Linked DNA regions of Homo sapiens: region 2 is linked to region 1. Evidence: fine-mapped QTL for protein levels in blood plasma. Region 1 holds a variant in brackets. A gene starts in the other region. All regions are shown on their forward strands.

The links. PIP is the chance, under the fine-mapping model, that this variant and not a neighbour inherited with it causes the effect. Protein levels are from antibody-based Olink assays in UK Biobank. Linkage for the fine-mapping came from a reference panel and not from the study's own genotypes, which makes the PIPs less certain.
Region 2: DRG2 starts here. The variant in region 1 is fine-mapped to the plasma level of the DRG2 protein (UK Biobank, PIP above 0.99).

The regions. Positions count from the first base shown.
Region 1 is chr6:116,570,506-116,573,395 of GRCh38, forward strand. RWDD1 (RWD domain containing 1) reads left to right here and starts at 999. Exons shown (of 7, transcript NM_015952.4): 1 at 999-1,150. The coding sequence starts at 1,078. RefSeq lists enhancers at 394-573, 604-933, 1,154-1,253 and a silencer at 974-1,053. The variant G/C (reference allele first, on the strand shown) is at 1,013.
Region 2 is chr17:18,086,397-18,089,304 of GRCh38, forward strand. DRG2 (developmentally regulated GTP binding protein 2) reads left to right here and starts at 1,552. Exons shown (of 13, transcript NM_001388.5): 1 at 1,552-1,691. The coding sequence starts at 1,628. RefSeq lists enhancers at 1,210-1,369, 1,435-1,936, 1,560-1,879, 1,930-1,979, 1,937-2,436.

The DNA.
Region 1 (2,890 bases):
CATAAAGCTAACCATGTTTATTTAGCCATTTTCTTAGCTTTTGCCATCATGGTTCTTTGAAAATTTTCTTTGTAATTGCTGCAATGATTTTGGAGATCACAGATGCATGCTACTTGCTCAAGTTTATTCTTGGAAGTCGTATTACCAAATTAAAGGTTCTCAACATTTCTCGGGGTACTGCAATTTTTACATTGCATATGATAATTGTTATTACTGAGATCTACATTCCTTTCATCAATTCACAAATACACAATCACAGACATCTTGAGATCTATCATACGTCCAGCTGCGTTCATTTCACAAAATCAGAAGTTAAGCCTAAAGATCTGAACCGAGAAGCCGGACCTCCGGTCTATTTCTCCCTCCTGGATCCACCCCGACTTATTAAGCAGTTAGACCGACCCTTCCATACTCATTCAAGGCAGTGCAGAGCTTTTGCTCCCCTGCCCAGTGGAATCTACACTGGTCCCAGCCTCTCGTCCAACTCCCGTAGGACGCCAAGCAATACGGAGTTCGAGAAGCTCAGAAATCTCCTGAGCCCCACCAGTCCACACTAGGTTGCAAGCCCGCAGCACCTACGCCACGGCGTCAAACCGGAAACCAGAAAAGGTGAAGGCATCGGACGCCCCTCGCCCCAGCCCGGCCACCAGCGACACTATCCTTCACTGACGCGCGATGCCGGCCTTTCAGCCCAGACTCATCGAGCGAGGATGCAGCGCTGAGAGGCTTCTAAGGCTCAGGCCCTGCAAAGCCCAGGAGCCGGCTGTAGGTGTCCTTGGCGAATGCCAGACCGCGCGCACCGTCCCAGCAAGTCCCGAGCGAGTGTGGGACAGGCAGCAAATCAGTGCCCCCTGGCCAGGCAGAACGAGTCGAACGTGGAAGTAGGGAGCAGGCGGAGGCCGGCGCGGAGCTGCAGTTAAGCAAGCCGGGTCTGGCTTTGGGCCCTGGGCCTTCCAGCCGGGGACTCTGCGCCTGCGCCCGCCTGGCCGCCGCCCGCTCTCCCGGCGCGGCA[G/C]CTGTCTGGGCTGCTGCGCGCCGCCTAGGTGTCTGGGCGATCTATGGGCAAGAGCAAGGGCCACGATGACAGATTACGGCGAGGAGCAGCGCAACGAGCTGGAGGCCCTGGAGTCCATCTACCCTGACTCCTTCACAGGTGACTCCCGCGGCCGCAAGCCTGTAGCCGCCCCGAGGTGGAGTAGGACGGGCAGGAGCTGCCGCAGCTCTGGGCCTCATAGGTTGGGGTGGAGAAGGGGACCTTGAGGCCGCGCGGCCACCTTGCCCTCCACTCCTCAAGTTCTTCAGTCACTTACCAGCAACCCAGTGACTTTTTCTCCTTCTCTGCTTGTTCCCGGAAATCTAAAAGTCCGGGTGATGTTGGAGGGTGTCAGGCCTGAAAATTGAGTCGGGATTACTTTGGTTTCTGTGTAACCTACAGCAACCTGAGATTTATAATACATTAAGAGAAAAAATACTCCAAGTGCGATTCGTTTTTCCACAGCCGCAAGAATGTTAGTTTTCACATTTTTAGCTTTATTAAGGTAGAAACTGTTTTTCATACGATGCTGTTTTAGTTTATAGGATTCAGAGTGCTGTTTTCAGTTACTCAAATCGGTTTTGAGAGTAGCATAGTCCCTGAAGTCTGTCGGGTTTCTTTTCTTATGAAAAAAAAAAAAATCTGGCATTCAGCAGAATGCCTAATGGATAATGTGGCCCAAATTTCCGTTCTGCTATAAATTCATAGGTTGTTAGATTGGAAGGGAGATTAAACATCATCTATCCTGGGGCTCCTGCTCCAAGCCAAGGTCATGGGGGTTCAGGAAAGCTAAGTGGCTTGCTCTGTACTGTCCGCCAGCGAGTTAGCGGCAGGGCTGGTACTGAGTTATACGTCCAGAACGCTTGCCTGTTCTTTCACTTTCCAGACATATGGGACTTGGGATTCAGCTCCAGCTGAGATTGAGAGAGCAGAAGATTACTTGGTAGGTTGGGCTAATGTAAAATATTATAATGAGAAGTTCATTAGGTATAATTTAGAGGACGAGATTTCTCTATTAAGCCATGCTTCGGATGATTATAAAAATGCTACATAACTATATCAATATGGCTCCTCTGAGATTTGAGAAGCGGTCAAATAAAGCCAATATGAGTGAGTAGAACCTAGGTGTGTGCATTTACATTCCCCATCCTTTCCTTTGAGTGTTGCCTATCGTTGATAGTCAGAATTTATAGTGTAAGGTATATTACTTTAACTTATAAATTCCAACCCCTCTCCCTTTCATTGTTTAGCTTAGTTTTCTTGGCTTCACCTTTTGACCACTGCTTGCAATGGTAGCAAATTTTGTTCTGCTTTGCCAACAGGCAGATGTCTCTCAGCTATCCCTGTATAGCTCCAGTCCTGTTCATGTTCTCTCTCACCAGCAGTACATCTGTGCTGTGAGGATGTTAAGGGGATGAGTGAAGAGGGGTTTGAGAGTGTCATTAACTGGGTGAGTGTGTATGGAGTCTGGCTCCCTTCTCTATCCTTGCTTATATGTGTATGTCTAAAATAGAATATAGGGTCAGTTGTTGGATATATTCTTAATCATGTTTGGTCATTTCCAGTACTTTGGAAACATACTAGGTATGAACACTGTAGGCAGAGTCAAGACAGCAGGATGTGCTATTCTTTTCATTTCTTTGGACATAAGCTATCCCTCGCTAAATCCTATGCATATAAGCATTTATAAAACTGATATCTTTTTTTGTTTTTAACCCTGAAATAATCTTGTGGGTATTTCAAATTGTACTAGGCCCTGACAGCTCTGGTATAGTTCGCTATGTGAAATTCTTATCAGATGCCCAAGTGCTTGAGGATTCTGAGCCAGGGTAATAAAAGACAATTTATGAATCTTTTGAT
Region 2 (2,908 bases), not on the chromosome of region 1:
TGTAATCTCAGAACTCTGGGAGGCCAAGGCTGGCAGATTCCTTGAGCTCAGAAGTTCAAGACCAGACTGGGCAACAATGGTGAAACTCCATCTCTACAACATAATACAAAAATCAGCCAGGCGCGGTGGCTGATTTTCTCCCAGACTGAGGAGGGAGGATCACCTGAGCCTGGGAGGTCGAGGCTGCAGTGAGCTGTGATCACGCCACTGCACACCAGCCTGGGTGATCAAGTGAGACCCTGTCTCAAAAAAAAAAAAAAAAAAAAAAAGGTGGTATGGGGATCCACTTTTTTTTTCTTGAGACAGGTTCTCGCTCTGTTGCCCATGCTGGAGTGCAGTGGCAGCATCTTGGGGATCCATTTTGAACCTCTTCAAGCTTGTCCCACCTGAGGTCTGCAGCCACATGTGGCCCAGGACCACTTTGAATGTGGCCAAACACAAATTCGTAAACTTTCTTAAAACATTATGAAATTTAGGCAGGGCACAGCGGCTCACGCCTGTAATCCCAGCACTTTGTGAGGCTGAGGCAGGCAGATCACTTGAGGTCAGGAGTTCGTGACCAGCCTGGCCAACATGGTGAAACCTCGTCTCTACTAAAAATACAAAAATTAGCCGAGTGTGGTGGCACGCGCCTGTAATCCCAACTACTTGGGAGGCTGAGGCAGGAGAATCACTTGAACCCAGGAGTCGGAGGTTGCGGTGAGCCAAGATCACACCACTGAACTACAGCCTGGATGACAAAGTGAGACTCCGTCTCAAAAAAACAAAACTAAAACAAAGAAAAAAAAACTGAGGTTTTTTGTTTGTTTGTTTTTTGAGATGGAGTTTCGCTCTTGTTGCCCAGGCTGGAGTGCAATGGCGCGCAATCTCCACTCACCGCAACCTCCGCCTCCCGGGTTCAAGCAATTCTCCTGCCTCAGCCTTCCCAGTAGCTGGGATTATAGGCGCGCGCCACCACGCCCGGCTAATTTTGTATTTTTAGTAGACATGGGTTTCTCCATGTTGGTCAGGCTGGTCTCGAACTCCCAACCTCAGGTGATCCGCCCGTCTCGGCCTTCCAAAGTGCTGGGATTACAGGCGTGAGCCACCGCGCCCGGCCAAAACATTGAGGGTTTTTTTGGCGATTTTTTTTTAAGCTCATCAGCTATCGTTAGTGTTGGTGTATTTTACGTGTGGCCCAAGACAATTCTTCCAATGTGGCCCAGAGAAGCCAAAAGATTGGACACCTCCATTTATAGTATAAAATGAAAGCCACTAGGCTTTCGGCTCAGCCCCTTTTCCTTACACTGCCAGTCAGCTGCGCTCAGGGACCCGCAGTTCAGAGTTCAACACGGGCAGATTCCCTCTCTTCCTTGCTTGCTCCTGCCAGCCGCAGCCGTGGGCCAGTACAGCATGGCCCGGCCCCGCCCCGGCTCTTTCCAGAGGTCCGCAGCCTGGCCGGCCCAGCGGGCGGAACCGATAGTGTCTGGCACTTGGCTCGCCCGGACTCTGAATCCTGGAGCACCAGGCGCCCACGAGAACGCTGTTCTCTTTGGCTTCCGGGCGCACGCTACTCTGTCGCCGCCGTCAGACCGGAATTGCCGGTGCCGCCGCCACCGCTGTCTGTGCGCCCACCTCTGCTGCTACCATGGGGATCTTAGAGAAGATCTCGGAGATCGAGAAGGAGATCGCTCGGACACAGAAGAACAAGGGTGAGGGCCGGCCGGGCGGGGCCTTCCTTTCTGCCTGCCTCAGTTTTCCTGTCTGTAAAATGGGGGAACAACTCCAGCAGTAATGCTGGGGCAAGATCCGAGGCCGCGGAGAAGTTGCCAGACAAGTGCCGAGGCCGCCCTGCGCGCCCAAGGCAGGGCCAGGCGGGAGCGGGTCTCACGCCCAGGTCTGACTGCAAACGTACCCCAAGAGATCTGGTCAGTCCCAGACCGTGTGCCCGAGTAGAGTAGTCCCAGCTCACAGAGCAAGCATCTGACCCAGAGAGAGGCGGAGCTGGGGTTCAAACCTCAGTCTCCTGATGGCTGGGCCTGGGGCCTGGGTCTACTCTGTTGTTTTGGGAAGTGCAAGAGGAGACCTCTCAGGAACAGCCTCACCCAGCAGCTGAGAGCCCATTGGAGCAAGGGAATCAGGACTCTGGAGTCTGGAAGGCCTGGGTTTGAGCCCCAGGTCCACCACGTACCTTCTGTAAAACATTGGAAAGTCACTTCATTTCTTGGAGTCTCAGTGTCCTCATCTGTAAATGGGGTAATACTCCCCTGCTCCATCTTAGTACACAGCTGAGTTAAATTAGATGGCCTTTACAAAGCACTGGGCACATGGTGAGCACTCAGTATTTAAAGTAAACACCCCAACATAGATAATACATAATGAAGCCTCAAATCTGGACTTTAGAATGTAAGGGCTGGAGGAGCTCACAGAAGAGAGGTGAGGAGAGAACGATGACACCAGGACAAAGTGGGACTTGAGCTGGTTGTTGGAAGGGTATCCCAGGTGGGGGCCACTGCTGAGACAAAGACATGGGAGTGAGCATGGTATGTTCATGGGACAGTGAGAACAATCTAGATCAGAAGGGGGTTATGGAAGAGTAATGGGAGATGCAATTGGCCAGGCTAGTGGCTAGCCATTCAGGCTTGTGGGAGCAGGAAGCAAGCAACACTAGATAGCTGGTCCCAGTGTCTGCCCTCCCTTGGTTCCATTTAGGTTTGAAGGCCAAGGAGTTGAGGGCCCTCTATGACTCATTCCTTCTGTAAATCTTTTTTGTTTGTTTGTTTGAGACAGTCTTGTTCTGTCACCCAGGCTAGAGTGCAGTGGTGCCATCTGGGCTCACTGCAACCTCTGCCTCCCAGGTTCAAGCGATTCTCCTGCCTCAGCCTCCAAATAGCTGGGATTACAGGCACGTGCCACCACACCCGGCTAA